Linked DNA regions of Homo sapiens. The protein of the gene in region 1 purifies or fractionates together with the protein of each later gene. This does not show direct contact. Each region holds a gene or a part of one and is shown in the gene's direction. Other genes may lie near its edges.

What was found.
Region 2: the proteins of CD40 (region 1) and NBEAL2 purify together in Homo sapiens (co-immunoprecipitation; 2 studies listed by BioGRID and IntAct, with this or other methods). This does not show direct contact.
Region 3: the proteins of CD40 (region 1) and XPO5 purify together in Homo sapiens (co-immunoprecipitation; 2 studies listed by BioGRID and IntAct, with this or other methods). This does not show direct contact.
Region 4: the proteins of CD40 (region 1) and IPO11 purify together in Homo sapiens (co-immunoprecipitation; 2 studies listed by BioGRID and IntAct, with this or other methods). This does not show direct contact.

The regions. Positions count from the first base shown.
Region 1 is NC_000020.11:46,124,722-46,128,578, forward strand, and holds part of CD40 (tumor necrosis factor receptor superfamily member 5 isoform 1 precursor), read left to right. Parts: intron 1-1,918; coding exon 1,919-1,980; coding exon of another isoform or gene 1,981-2,020; exon of another isoform or gene 2,021-2,440; intron 2,441-3,257; exon of another isoform or gene 3,258-3,416; coding exon 3,417-3,503; coding exon of another isoform or gene 3,504-3,515; intron 3,516-3,608; coding exon 3,609-3,637; intron 3,638-3,857.
Region 2 is NC_000003.12:46,985,879-46,989,735, forward strand, and holds part of NBEAL2 (neurobeachin-like protein 2), read left to right. Parts: intron 1-2,111; exon of another isoform or gene 2,112-2,169; coding exon of another isoform or gene 2,170-2,199; intron 2,200-2,483; exon of another isoform or gene 2,484-2,567; intron 2,568-2,790; coding exon 2,791-2,879; intron 2,880-2,963; coding exon 2,964-3,092; intron 3,093-3,206; coding exon 3,207-3,288; intron 3,289-3,381; coding exon 3,382-3,503; intron 3,504-3,632; coding exon 3,633-3,715; intron 3,716-3,790; exon of another isoform or gene 3,791-3,857. UniProt on the Homo sapiens protein: Probably involved in thrombopoiesis. Plays a role in the development or secretion of alpha-granules, that contain several growth factors important for platelet biogenesis.
Region 3 is NC_000006.12:43,569,469-43,573,325, reverse strand, and holds part of XPO5 (exportin-5), read left to right. Parts: intron 1-747; coding exon 748-820; intron 821-2,331; coding exon 2,332-2,469; intron 2,470-2,641; coding exon 2,642-2,824; intron 2,825-3,857. UniProt on the Homo sapiens protein: Mediates the nuclear export of proteins bearing a double-stranded RNA binding domain (dsRBD) and double-stranded RNAs (cargos). XPO5 in the nucleus binds cooperatively to the RNA and to the GTPase Ran in its active GTP-bound form.
Region 4 is NC_000005.10:62,485,476-62,489,332, forward strand, and holds part of IPO11 (importin-11), read left to right. Parts: intron 1-2,295; coding exon 2,296-2,386; intron 2,387-3,826; coding exon 3,827-3,857. UniProt on the Homo sapiens protein: Functions in nuclear protein import as nuclear transport receptor. Serves as receptor for nuclear localization signals (NLS) in cargo substrates.

The DNA.
Region 1 (3,857 bases):
GACTGATAACTGGAGGCACCACTGGTATAGTTTTTTTTTTTTTTTTTTTTTTTTTTTTTTTTTGAGACAGAGTCTCACTCTGTCGCCCAGGCTGGAGTGCAGTGGCGCAATCTCGGCTCACTGCAAGCTCTGCCTCCCAGGTTCACGCCATTCTCCTGCCTCAGCCTCCTGAGTAGCTGGGACTATAGGCGCCCGCCACCACACCCGGCTAATTTTTTTGTATTTTTAGTAGAGACGGCGTTTCACCGTGTTAGCCAGGATGGTCTTGATCTCCTGACCTCGTGATCCGTCTGCCTTGGCCTCCCAAAGTGCTGGGATTACAGGCGTGAGCCACCGTGCCCGGCCACCAGTGGTATAGTATTAATGGAATCAGTGCATTGGCTTACGTATCTGATTACAGCTCAGTAAGTGTGTGACCCTCACTGAGCCTCAGTCTCCTCATCTGAAAAATGGGAATGACCTTCATTTCACAAGGCTTGAGCTAAAAACATGTAAAGTGTATTGTAAATTCCTGAATGCTCTACTCATGTAAGACTAAAGTAGGCCGGGCGTGGTGGCTCACACCTGTAATTGCAGCACTTTGGGAGGCCGAGGAGGGCAGATCATGAGGTCAAGAGATCGAGACCATCCTGGCTAATATGGTAAAACCCTGTCTCTACTAAAAATACAAAAATTAGCTGGGCGTGGTGGCGCACATCTGTAGTCCCAGCTACTCAGGAGGCGGAGGCAGGAGAATTGCTTGAACCTGGGAGGTGGAGGTTGCAGTGAGCTGAGATCGCGCCACTGCATTCCAGCCAGTCTGGCGAAAGAGCAAGACTCTGTCTCAAAAAAAAAAAAAAAAAAAAAAAAAGACTAAAGTACATGGTTTCTTCAAAGCTTCTCTCTCTTTCTCCCACCTTAGATGATTTTTCCTTTGCAATGTCCTGTGTCCATTCCGCCCCACTCCTCCTGGGGCCACCTGGACCAGGTCTTCATCATCTCATATCTATATGTTTGCTGTGTCTCCTGGCTGGCCACTCTTCTGTAATTTCTCCTCCTCTGAGCTCTCTGGGCAGCTGAATCTTCTCACTAGTGAAGTCGCCTGGTTGGATGCTGATGAGACTGACCAGCTGAATCCAGTTGAAAACTTCACACTTGGCAGTGATCTGGTTCTAAAGACACAATTTTCCATAGTTTCCTAACACCATCCTGCATGCCACCTGCCTTATTTCCCCACATCACATCGTCCCACTTAGCGGGACTGCACTGCTGATCCAAATTTTACATCCTTTAGGGCCCACTCAGGTCATATGTCCTCAGGGAAGTCTTTCTGGAAGAACCTTAAACCAGAGGTTCTCAACAGGGGGCAGTTTTGCTCCCTGTGGAACGTTTGCCAATGTCTGGACACATTTCATTCGTCACAAACGGAGAGGGGGATGCTACAGGGATCTGGCGGATAGAGGCCAGGGATGCTGCTGAACATCTGCAATGCATAGGACAGCCCACCCCCACCCCCACACCCCCAGTAAATAATGATCCAGCCCAAGTGTCACTGGTGCTGACGTTGAGTAACCCTATCTTAAGCTGAACTCATCATCTCTCCATTCCAGCCTTGGTGGATTCTGTCTCCTCTGAACCATTCCCATCTCACTTTAGCCTACCTAGATCACAAAGCTTGGCACTCATTATAGACTCCCCTATTTATTACTCCTTCAAGATGTGCAAGAATCTTTTCTCTGCACTTTTAAGTTCTGTAAGAAGAGTCTGTGTCGTTCCTATAATAACCAGCATAGGACGTTGCACGTGTTGTGTGCTCAGTGAACCTGGATTTGTTGATTGTTGACTGACTCACTCTAGAGTTGGAAATCTTATGCTTGGGGAAACTTAATATCTCTTTCTTTCTCTGTGTGTGTGCATTTGTGCACGTGTCTGTGCATAGCTGTGAGACCAAAGACCTGGTTGTGCAACAGGCAGGCACAAACAAGACTGATGTTGTCTGTGGTGAGTCCTGGACAATGGGCCCTGGAGAAAGCCTAGGAAGGTGGGAACTGAAGGGGGAGATGAGGCACACAGGAACACTGGATGGGAAAAAGGGGAGGGGAGGCAGTTTGGGGGTGTGGTATCACAGCTCTGCCACTTATCTTGGGAGTCTGGGCAAATCACTTCCCCTCTCTTAGCCTCAGTTTCTTCATCTGTAAAATGGGATGATAACAGCACTTCCTTAGTAGGTTTTGATTTTAGAGTGAGAAGGTTGGCCTACAGTAAAGATCAGATAATGTAAATCAGTGAAAAAGGTCAGGGGTAAGAAAATTACATTCTCTTTACCTAACGCTAAATGACCAGTTAATGGGTGCAGCACACCAACATGGTACATGTATACATATGTAACAAACCTGCACATTATGCACATGTACCCTAAAGCTTAAAGTATAATAATAATAAAATTTAAAAAAACGAAAAATACATTCTCTTTGCTTTTTCTCAAAATGTACTTTCCTCTTTGTAGGGCTGGGACTAGAATGAGGTGAGCAAGGCACTTGCCCTCGGGCGCAATATTTAAGAAGGTGCCATAAAAGTGTAGTAATCAAGGTAAATTCATTTTGATGCAATATTTTTAAAAATAAAAATTAATGCAAAGAAATCCATGATGAGCAAGATAGCAACATTTTAAATAAAGAACAGGATCCGACCCTGTGTTTGCATGACCCTGCCTCACTCACCTCACCCTAATCCTGGCCCTGGTTCCAGTAAAAGGAATAGGCAGCCAGCCTGCAGGCCGTAGTTTGCTGACTTGGTGTCCGCCTGATGATTTTCAAAATATGGCATTAAAAGAATGTTTACCTTGATGACTGAGTGTTTTGGACATCCTTTTCAATTTTGTCCTGAAACAATTTCATCCCTTGCCTCACGCTAGTCTCCGCCCTGCCTTTTGGTCTTTCTTTTATTTTCCCACTTTGAAAAAAAAATTCGGCATGAGAAATACTTTACCTTTCCCCTCCACTCTTCTATACCAAAAGCAACATGCAGACATGAATCATGCTAGACCTCGGCATTGGGCAGAGAGCAGGGAGTGGCGGGGAGCATGGTGAGCAGGTGGTGACAGCCACTGCCACCACTCGCTTCTAGATGGTTCCCAGGTGGGGAGGCTGCCAACTGGAACCCAGTCTTCCCAGTTTGTAAGAGAAATCAGATGTCTAGGTTTGAATATGTGATCTCCCAGTTTAAAAATGTCGGCAAATATTTCCAAACGTTAAGAAAATGTTCTGGCTCCTTTAAAGACATCTGCCAGCCACATTTCCCCAAGGACCGCGGTTTGAACCTTCTGATGTAGATGAGCTCTGACATTGGAAGATTCTGGAGTCTGACAAGTCACAGCAGGTTGAGGGTAGGGAGAAACTGCAGGTGAGGGGTGCATGCTGAAGTCCTGATTTCTCCAGGTCCCCAGGATCGGCTGAGAGCCCTGGTGGTGATCCCCATCATCTTCGGGATCCTGTTTGCCATCCTCTTGGTGCTGGTCTTTATCAGTGAGTCCTCAGGTGGGGAGGTGTTGGGGGAGGGAGGGGAGACCACCTGTTTCTTATCTGGCCTCTCCAACTCCCCATCCTTTTTTTTTTTTTTTTTTTTTTTAGAAAAGGTGGCCAAGAAGCCAACCAATAAGGTAGGTCACCCCTGAGAACCCGGGACAGAGTTTTGACAAACTGGGAAGATGGCCTCACGGTTGCCTATGGGGCAGTAAAACTGATTCAGAGTCTGTCTCTGCAGCCAGTGGGGTGGCAGCAGAATTGGGGACTGTCATCCCCACCCACCATGCTCCTTCCATCCAGAGCTCAATCCCCCACAGAACTGCCCCTGGCACCACTGGCAGAGCCTAACACTGG
Region 2 (3,857 bases), on another chromosome or scaffold:
TGAGCATCATGGCCACTCCTCCCAGGCCCTGGACCCTCACATGCAGCACTGCCACCATGCTCTCGTCCCCTGCCATTCTCTGCCCTCTGACCCTGGCTCCCTGAGGGACTCCCGTACCCCGACACATTGCAGTCTCAAGCCATGGGGCCTAGGTCAGAGTTGGCCTGAGGTCTTCCAGGGAGAAACAGTGAGACCCAGGGAGGCAGGACAGGCAGCCACCCCACCCCTGCCTAATACTGTGCTTTGGAGACCTCGTCATCCCCTTTCAGAGCCCCTGAAGGCTGTCTTGATTGTCCCAGCCCTGAACCCAGCTCAGCCCAATCTGCTGAAAGTTTACAGGACTGGACAGGCCAAGGGTGTGGTTCTAGGGACAGAAAGTACTATCTACATACTCTAGGAGTATGTAGAGATTGAGGGACCCACCCCTGTGCTGGGAAGGCTGATCAAGGTGATGGCCACCAGGAGGGTGGGAGGTTCCTGCTCAAGTACCAAAAGCCCAAGTCACACAAGGCAGTGGGGCATAGGGTGGGAAAAGGCCTGGATAGGAGGATGTGAACCACAGAGGGGGAGAGGTGGAAGCTGGAGAAGCAGGTTCTGGTTGGACCAGCAGCCTGGAATGCTGCTCAGCAGTTGAGCCTTTATGGGGAGGGGTTAGACACGGTCAAATTTGGGCTTTCAGGTGCTCAGTAGAGCTGCAGCTGGCAGGAAGACTCACATTTTGAGTGACTAGCTTGACTGAGGGGCAGAAGAGAGGAAGACAGTATTGGGACATTTTTGAAGGCAGCTAGGGGTCTCTGTGGGGCCACTGAGGCAAGGATCGGGGCCCGCATGGTCCTCATGGGCTGGCTTGCTAGCAATCATGAGTGGTCCTGGCCTAGAACTAAGGTCTGGCTTTTAGCATCCTCAAAGGTACACTGAAGACAAAGTAGTAGATAAGGCATCCCCTGTGGGGCCTCCTGTTTCCCCATCTGCAATGGGAGAGGTTCAGAAGAAATGGTCCAGGGCCCCTGGCCACCTCTGCTGTCTCAGGATCTGGGTATTTTGGGCTCCTTGCTGATTGTTCGGGAGGAGGCTGCCAGCAGGAGAGGGTGGAGAGGTCAATAAATGTAACTGACAGACAAAATGTCATGGTTGTGTGGGTCTGCACCATGGTGGCCCTGGCACCTCTCTGAGTTGTCTGGGCTTCAGATCTGCACTAAACTGTACCAGGGAGTTCCCCAATCACAGGGTGGACGGCTGCTCTGCCTAGGTTTTTTGGGGATCTGGCTCAGGTCTGCTGCAGTCAGGCCTCTTGCCCTGGGGCCATTCAGGCCTTGCCCGTGGTCTGGGCCCATAGGCTGCAAAAATTAGCCATCCATCCAAAGATAGTTCTGGAGGTCCTTGGGTATGAGGCCCATGGCCCCTGGGGAGCAGCCTGAGGCCTGCTGAGTGCTGACTGTGATGTGTCCCTTGCCTCTTCATCCTTTTCCACTCTAGCTCCCCCTGTCCACCTCTCTGACTCTAGGAAAGAAGGCTGCCTTTTGGACTCAGCTGGTTAGGAGCTCCATATGGGGCCAGCCTGGAGGAGCTCCTGTATAAGCCACAACCCACCCCTGGCCCCTGGGAGGGGCTTAGAGATTAGAGCAGATACGGGCTAGGCTAGGATTTATCAGCTGTGTTCCTGAGCGAAGAGAACTGCAGAGTTCAGATGAGGTGGCCAGGACATGGCGGGCGGCGGGGCGGGACAAAGGTATGGCTGAGTCTTCTACATCGACCCCTGTGGCCTGAGGCCTTGCGCGCAGGTCAGGGAGCTGTGGGTGCCTTAAGTGAAGGGTACTGCAGCAGCAGGATCAGAACCCTCACCTGGATAAGAGCTCTTCCAGGCGCCAACCTCATGCTTGTAAAACTAGTCTTGGCCCACAAGCCCCACCCAGGACAGGTGACTCCACCCCTCTGTAACAGGTCCCACCCTCTGTGCAGGCCAGGTCGCTTGCAGCCTCTCTCACTGGGGCCCAGGGTGCCCCGGCCCCCCCACATCCCTGCGGTCTGCCGGGAGGAAGCGGTCCCCCTCCCCCACCGTGACTCTGCGCTTCCTGCCCCAGCCCCGGGGCGGGAGGAGACATTTCCCGTTCACACCAAAGTTTTCCTGGCAGCGCCTAGACCTGGGCTTAGCCACTGCCCCTCTTGCCCATGGAACCAGCTCTGGGGCCTGGGGTCCAGGTAACCAGCAAGGGTGGGTGGAGGTTCCCGGGGCAAGGCAGGGCCGCACATGAGGATGTGCGCATGTCTGGGTCTGCCTGTCTAATGGTACACGTGTGTCCTGGGATCCACAGTTAAAGAAGGCTACTGAAGGTGGTGGCTGCTGGGCTGGGTGAAGATGGCAGATGAGGACCCAGCCCAAGGCTCTTGGTAGGGGGTGGCTGCTGTGTGGGACACCTTCTCCAGCCCTAGCACCAGTGTGGGCCACAGCCACACCCCACTTACGCCCCTCCCCTGGCTGTGTCAGACCTGCCTAGGACTGCAGGCATTAGGGAGGTGGGAGCAGAAACTGGGAGGCTGAGAGAAGCAGTGGGGTGCCTGGAAAAGTGGTCAGTATGTACCTAACTCTCTGATGCTGACCTTCCAATGTCCTGCCCTCCCTCCCCCGTCCCCCACTCCCCTTCTCCACACCCTCCACTCTGCCTTTAACCCCTTGTCCATGCCCTCTGTCCACCTCCATTCATTCTTCGCCTCTGTCTACATCCCCTTGTCCCTGCCCTGTTTACTGCATCCCTCCTGCCCCCCACCACTGTTCCCCTGTTCTGCCTACAGAAGGACCTGGGTTACCTGCAGCAGTGGCTGAAGGCCTTTGTAGGTGCCTTCAAGAAGAGCATCTCACTGTCCTCTCTGGAGCCACGAAGGTGAGGCTGGATCTGCACTGAGGGCAGGGACAGAGCAGGGAGATTGAGGGGTCCTCAGCACCCGTGTCTCCCCTTTCCTTGCAGGCCAGAGGAGGCAGGTGCAGAGGTCCCGCTGCTACCACTGGATGAGCTGCATGTGCTGGCCGAACAGCTGCACCAGGCTGACCTGGAGCAAGCCCTCCTGCTGCTCAAGCTCTTCATCATTCTCTGCAGGTGTCTCTGTTGTCCACTCTACAAGCAGGGGCCTAGAACTGTGGGCCAGAGGGAGAGGGGACAAGGAGGGGCATGGTGTATTATTGTGACCTCTCTCATCATTGACTCCCCCAGGAACCTGGAGAACATAGAGGCAGGCCGGGGCCAAGTGCTAGTGCCCCGAGTGCTGGCACTGTTGACCAAGTTGGTGGCGGAGGTGAAGTGGCCTCTACCTTGGGGGGCAGAGGGTGTATGCAGGGAGGCAGGCGGTAGCCATGGCGGGGCTAACCCTCTCTCCCCACACCTACAGCTGAAAGGATGCCCACCACCCCAGGGCCGAGGCACGCAGTTGGAGAATGTGGCCCTACATGCTCTGCTTCTCTGCGAGGGCCTCTTTGACCCTTACCAAACCTGGCGGCGCCAGCGCAGTGGGTGAGACCCAGCCCACAGGAAGGGAACCCAGAGGAGGGTGGGGAGAGGATGGCCGCGCTGGGCCCAAGGAGGGGTGACGGCCAGGAGTGGTGAGAGCCGGGCTGATGTACTTGGCCTCACTGCCCCCAGGGAAGTCATCAGCTCCAAGGAGAAGAGCAAATACAAGTTCCCTCCTGCTGCTTTGCCCCAGGAATTCAGCGCCTTCTTCCAAGGTCAGGCCCCGCCCCTGCCCCCACTTGGCTCCACCCCCAAACCTAGGCCCCTTCCTGTCGTTCCTTGATCCTGCCATACACAGGAACCACTTGGTGGTGGCTGCATGCAGGACTGGGAGAACCAAAGACCAAGCAAGAGTTT
Region 3 (3,857 bases), on another chromosome or scaffold:
CTCATTCAAGATTTAACCTTTCTTTTCTTCAGTTTCTTCATCCATGTAAAGTGTGTGGTACATATTACCCATTCAACAAATATTACCTGCCATTTAGCCAATACTTACTGAGCTCTGACTATATGTCATTAGCCCTCGAAGCCTTTTTAGAGTAATGCAATGTATAGGTCAATGAATCTCTGATTAGGCACTGTGGCTTTCTTTTTTCTCTCTGTCTTTCTGAGTTTGTGTGCCTTCTCTGGGTGGTACATCCAAAGCAGGATTGTATGAGAATAACTGAAAACCCATCCTAACTTGATTGTCCTACCCTCAACACCTATCAGAAGAGGTAGCCTTTAAGACTTAGCCATAGTTTTTCCAGAATTGTTTTGTAAGCCAGCACAGAAAATGACTGATGTCAAAACTGCATTTTCTGAAAAGCAAGTACATTGTTGCAGTTGACCTAGATGTATATTCACTTTTGGCCCATCAATAAAATCATGAGGCAAAGCTGACGTGTGGTACAAATCTTGTGCGGATTCCAGTTAATGGACCACTGCATATATAAAACCTTTTCCCAAGAATTTTTGTGTTAGTATTTTGGTTAAATGTAGATCATTTTTGCCCATTCATTGACAGGTACAAAATCAAAAGTATAATTTCTTAATGAAATCTCCAGTGTAATCAAATGTAGAAATCCATGCTATTCTCTTGTAAAGACAAGACTTCTAAAGTGGTTCTATTGACTTTATGCATTTTGGTGGTCAGGTTTCGGTGGAACGGCATGTCTCGATTGGAGAAGGTGTATCTGAAGAACAGTGTCATGGAGCTGATTGCAAATGTAAGGAATGGGTGGTTGGGAGACATGTTTCCAAGGTAGTTTAGGCAAAGCGTGACTTCTTCAATAGGGAGTTTGTGTAAAAATTCACTGCTTCTAAATAGGTCAGACAGCACAAGAAATCATAATTTAGGCCAGGCACAGTGACTCACACCTGTAATTCTAGCGCTTTGGGAAGCCAAGGTAAGAGGATCACCTGCATCTAAGAATTCGAGAGCAGCTTGGGCAATGCAGTGAGACCCCATCTCTACCAAAAATGCAAAAATTAGCTGAGCGTGGTGGCGCATGCCTGTGGCCCAGCTACTCAGGAGGCTGAGGTGGGAGGATTTTCTGAGCCCAGGAGGTCCAGGCTGCAGTGAGCTGTGATGGTGCCATGGCACTCCAGCCTGTGCAACAGAGCAAGACCCTATCTCAAAAACAAAACAAAACAAAAGCAGAAAGCATAATTCAGCATATGTCTCTTACTAGGTTTAATTAATCATGCTTATGTATTGACTTCTATTTTTTAAATTATAAAGACAGGGCAGAGGGGATTAAATATTTTCAACAAATCAATAAGATTCTTAGATCTAAATTAGATTGAAACACTATTTTCTTTTATTCCAAACAACTACTATGTGATACTAATGATGAAAAACATGCAGAATTTTAAGTATGCAGAATGAATTTGTTTCAAGTATTAGAATATGACTTTTTTTTTTTTTTGAGACAGAGTCTCTGTTGCTCCGGCTGGATTGCATTAGCATGATCATAGCTCACTGCAGCCTCGAACTCCTGGGCTCAAGTGATCTTCTCGCCTTAGCCTCCCAAGTAGCTGGGATTATAGGCATGTGGTACCATGCCCAGCTAATTTTGTTTTTGGTTTTTAGAGAGACAGGGTCTCACTGTGTTTCCCAGGCTAGTCTGGTCTCAAACCCCTGGCCTCAAGCAATCCTCCCACCTTGGCTTTCCAAAATGCTGAGATTACAGGTGTGATGACTGGATGACTGTCTCTTTAAACACAAAACAGAATATGACTTTAAACATGTTCAAAATTGTAGCCTTTTTTCTTTCTTGGTTTTTTTTAAATAACAGACATGAGAGATGGGATCTTCTAATACTTCTGCGTCTTCTAGTGTTAGAACTATTGGTAAAATATTCATTTGCCCCTTCATACCCTTCCATTTTACCAGCTACTCACTATACTCCTTATTTCTATACTCTTCCTCCCTGGCCTTCTGCAAACTGAAACAATCAATATGAGAATCTTTTCATTTTGTAAAGAATAATGATGTCATCCTAGCTCTCGATATGACAGCCTTTTAGGTGATGCAACCCTCACTTAAGCTTTAAGCGGAAGAGTGATTAGCAAGAATGCAGGACAAGTGACTCAGGCTGAAGAACAGGTTCATTTGTTCTGTTTGGTTTAAAAGTAGGCCTGCTGATAAATTTTTTACAACTCTACAGCCCAGCTTTTTTCTGGAAGTCTGGAATCCAGTCTTGCATATCTCTTAATATCTCTTGTTCTTTTTCAGGGAACATTGAACATTTTGGAAGAGGAGAACCATATTAAAGATGCTCTGTCTCGAATTGTAGTGGAAATGATCAAGCGAGAGTGGCCACAGCATTGGCCTGACATGCTAATAGAATTGGACACTCTTTCCAAACAAGGGGTATGAAACACAGCTATATCAGTTTGGTATACTTTTCCTTGGAACAAACTTCAGGGTTTGTTGTTTGATTTTGTTTGTGGGTTTTTTTTTTTGGCAACAGAAAATAGCCTTTGGATATACATAAAATGAAAAGATATTTTAGTTTTTAACTAGCTTATTTCTATTGGTGTAGGAAACACAGACAGAATTGGTGATGTTTATCCTTTTGCGACTGGCAGAGGATGTAGTGACTTTTCAGACACTTCCCCCTCAAAGAAGAAGGGACATCCAGCAAACATTAACCCAGAACATGGAAAGGATCTTCAGTTTTCTGCTTAACACACTTCAAGAAAATGTAAACAAGTATCAGCAAGTGGTAAGGGATACCCCTACCTATAACATTTCTATTTTCCAATATGAGTGTTTTTGATTAATCTTACAGTAAGGAACTAGGGTGTCTAGGTCAGCAAAATGAAATCCTATTTTATAAGCAAAAAAATAAAAAACTAGGAAATGACAGAAAAACTGGAGCTCATTTTCTTTCTTTTTTTTTTTTTTTTTTTTTTGAGACGGAGGCTCGCTCTGTCACCTAGGCTGGAGTGCAGTGGTGTGATCCCGGCTCACTGCAACCTCTGCCTCCCAGGTTCAAGCGATTCTCCTGCCTCAACCTCCCAAGTAGCTGGGACTACAGGCGCCCGCCACCAGGCCCGGCTGATTTTTTGTATTTCTAGTAGAGACGGGGTTTCACTATGTTAGCCAGGAAGGTCTTGATCTCCTGACCTCATGATCCGCCCGCCTCCCAAAGTGCTGGGATTATAGGTGTGAGCCACGGCACCTGGCCTTTTTTAAAAAAAAAAAAAAAAAAAAAAAAAAAGATAGGGATCTCGGCTTACTGCAGCCTCCACCTCCTGGGATTACAGGCATGTGCCACCACACCTGGCTAATTTTTGTATTTTTAGTAGAGATGGAGTTTCGCTGTGTTAGCAAGGCTAGTCTCAAACTCCTGACCTCAGGTGGTCTACCCACCTTGCTCTCCCAAAGTGCTGAGATTATAGGTGTGAGCCACCGAGCCCAGCCCTAGGTGTTATTCTTAATTTTATTTTCAGAAGTTCTTTAGGAAAATACTAATTTTTTTTTTTTTTTTGGAGAGGGAGTCTCACTCTGTCACCCATGCTGGAGTGCAGTGGCACAATCTCGGCTCACTGCAACCTCCGCCTCCTGGGTTCAAGCGATTCTCCTGCCTCAGCCTCCCGGGTAGCTGAGATTACCGGTGCCTGCCACCATGCCCGTCTAATTTTTGTATTTTAGTAGAGATGGTGTTTCACCATGTTGGTCAGGCTGGTCTTGAACTCCTGACCTCAAATAATCCGCCTGCCTTGGTCTTCCAAAGTGCTGGGATGGTAGGCGTG
Region 4 (3,857 bases), on another chromosome or scaffold:
GCAAGAAAAATTGATAGGGGAAAGCTTAATCTTTCTAAAGCTCTTAGTAGAGAATGACACTCTATTAAAGATTCCAGACATTTGCTGGGCATGGTGGCTCACACTTTAATCCTAGCACTTTGGGAAGCCAAGGTGGGAGGATCGCTTGAGGCCAGAAATTCAAGACCGGCCTGGTAAACATAGTGAGACCCTGTCTCTGCAAAAAGTAAAAAAAGGAAAAAAAAATTAGACCAGAGTGGTGGCGCATACCTGTAGTCCCAACTCTTCAGGAATCTGAGGCAGGAGGATTGTTTGAGCCCAGGAGGTTGAGGCTGCCGTGTGCCATGATGATGCCACTGCGTTCTAGCCTGGATTACAAAGCAAAACCCGTCTCTTAAAAAAAAAAAAAAAAAAATTAAAGATTCCCAACATTAAGTCAGACAGATAAGAAACTGTTTATAAGAAACTAAGAACTATATTCATATTAAATTATGACGTTTAATCTGAGTTTTTTTTCTTTTTTCTTTTTCTTTTTTTTTTTTTTTGAGACAGAATCTCACTCTGTTGCCCAGGCTGGAGTGCACTGGTGCATCTCGGCTCACTGCAAGCTCCGCCCCCTGGGTTCATGCCATTCTCCTGCCTCAGCCTCCCGAGTAGCTGGGAATACAGGCGCCCGCCACCACGCCCAGCTAATTTTTTGTTTATTTAGTAGAGACGGGGTTTCATCTTGTTAGCCAGGTTGGTCTCGATCTCCTGACCTCGTGAGCCACCCGCCTCGGCCTCCCTAAGTGCTGGGATTACAGGCGTGAGCCACTGTGCCTGGCCTTTTCTTTTGTTTAACTTGGGGTCGGAAAACAAATTTTTTCTTCATCTTTTAGTACATTGCTTGGGAAATAATTGTCATTACACAAATAGAAAATGTTTGTCAAACTGAAAGCTGCCATTCTTAAGCTAGAATTTTTTCCTTCTATATATTTCATTAGTAAAGTTTCTTTTGGTATGTTATTTCTCTTACCACTTCATGTGATTCTCAGAGACTAGCCCATTGCTTTCAGTTATAGGATACTTTTACAACGCATTTATTAATATGACAAATGTTTTGCCGTTACCAGATGTGATGTTTGAGCTCTTCTTTTTAAGATTTGCACTTACATAATTTACATAATTAGCTATTTGTCTTCTAAAAATGTTATCTTTAATGTTTTTAGATTCATAAACATACAGTTGTTAACCAGAGAGATTACTGGTGATTTTAAAACTTTAAAAAATTTCATTCCTTTAATTTTTAAAAGTTTCTTTTATGGAGAAGTTTAAACATATTAAAAAATAGAATAATATAATGAGCCCTTCATGATAAGCTAGTTTATTAGTTATCAACTCATGGCTACTTTAGCTTCCTGTAAACATCTCCCAGTGTTGATGGTTATCTGAGATGACACATCCTCTGACCATATTTCAGTGTGTATATTTATAATGTTCCTTTTAAAACACCACACAATACCTTAAAAATTTAATTAAAAAATTTAAATATTGTGAACGATCTAGTGATTAAATTCCTTTTTAAAATTTAAATAAAAAATTATTTTAAAAAATTTTTTGTGGGTACATAGTAGGTGTACATATTTATGGGGTACATGAGATGTTTTGATACCAGCATGCAATGTGAAATGATTCAGTACTTTTAAGAACCAAACAAATCATTTTTTTAAATGTAGCTAATGCTAATTTCTGTTACCGCTTGTGTTTGTTAAGAGAAAGGCTACTTTATTTGGCAAATTGGAGTTCCTGTTTTTGCTTATTATATCATTGCTAAGAAAATACATAATAGCTACTCGGGAGGCTGAAGCAGGGGAATCGCTTGAACCTGGGAGGTGGAGGTTGCAGTGAGCCGAAATCACACCACTGCACTCCAGCCTGGTGACAGAGTGAGACTGTGTCTCAAAAAAAAAAGAATCTTGGGTAGTCAGCCATTTATAGTACTGAGCTATAAATGAGTGGCTACAGAATGCTTTTTAAATTTAAGGTATGATTAATTTAAAATGTACACTTTGCTTGCCATAGTTTTAAGTTTTTGAATGCGTAATGACAAATAATTGAAATGAAATCAACTTTCTTTTATTAATTATAATTCGATTTTGTTTTCCTTTGTGTTGGTTATAAAAAAATGGTAACCTTACTTTTTTTTTTTAACAAATCAAAAGTTGGAAACATTTTCAAAGTTTTAGAATTTTAAGATTAAGTATTTGCTTTATTAAAGAATTAGTCAATATAGTATGCAACTGTTTTGATGAGAAATTTGTATTTTTCCCTCTCCAGCCATGCACTGAAGTATTATTTATAGATATATTCCATGAATATAATCAGACTCTTACTCCTGTACTTCTAGAAATGATGCAAACACTTCAAGGTAAGGCATATTTTGTGATTAACTTTGAGTTAATCTCTTTAACGTTTAGTTAAGAAATAGTCTGAGTGCCTACAATGCATACTGTACTGTTTCCTGGGTCATATAATAAATATGAATTTGAGAAAAACAATTTTAAAACTTATTATCTTCCAAGGGGGTGGCATTTGAGATAGGCCTTGAATTATAGTTTGGACGATGATAAATTTTCCTGTAGTAAATACAATAGAAGCAAAAGCAAAACAGTAGTCATACTGCTTGCAGAAAGTCTATCTGGAGCGTGTTGTGAGAAATAGTGAGAAAAGGTTAAAATAGTGTTAGCCTCTCTTAGAATGGTGGCAGTGGGAATGGAAATAATTGATTATGGATTTGAGAGAAAATGATGATGTAAATTTTTGACACTTGGTCATTACACTTTGTACACAAGTAACTAATTATCTGCCTATTAACTAACATTGATTTATGATTTCTGTCTTTTCTGCTAGACTGTAAGTCCTAGGGGCATTGATCACGTCTGTTTTGTTTATATTTTATTCCCAGTGCTGGGCATATTCAGTAACTATTGTTACTTGATTGACTTTTAGCAACCGATTGAATGTGCTAGGCAAGGAAAAGTGATCAAAGATGATCCTAAACTTTTGAGCCTTAATGACAAGGAAACAGTTACCTCATTAGAAGTGGTAGGAGATAGAGATATACTTTCGGAGTGCATGTATGTAAGGAGCCTTGGGAAAAGAAAAGAGGATCTTAAGGACAGAACCTGAGATTTTCACCTATAGGGATATGAGTAAATAAAAGCCTTGTAAAAATGCCAGGTGTAGTGGTGTATCCTAGAGAAGAGCATGTTGTCAGAATGAGTGTTGGCCAGGCATGGTGACTCACGCCTGTAATTCCAGCACTTTGGGAGGCTGAGGTGGGCAGATCACTTGAGCCCAGGAGTCCCAGACCAGCCTGGACAACATGGCAAAAACCTGTCGCTACAAAAATTAGGAAAATTAGCTGGGCCTGGTGGTTAGTACCTGTAGTCCTAGCTATTCAGAAGGCTGAGGTTGGAGGATCATTTGAGCGCAGGAGGATGAGGCTGCAGTGAACTGAGAAAACCTCACTCCACTGTACTCCAGCCTGGGTGACAAAGCAAGACCTTGTCTCAAAAAAAATAATTTTGTGGTATATAGCACATTAGCATTTTGTGGTGTATATTTTCTAGAATATTGCTTGTCATAACATTTTTCAAATATGCTATAATGGTTTTTAATCCTGTGTTCTCTAATGATAATCATAAAACTTAGACTTTCCCTTTGTACTTGTGTCCATTTTTGACACCATGAAATGTGTTATACTTAATTGAATTGGGAAACTAACAAATTGTGTTTAAATATAAATTTTTTAAAAAACTAGTTTTATTTGCTTTTACTGATACCTATTTATATATATATTTTTTAGGACCCACAAATGTGGAAGATATGAATGCACT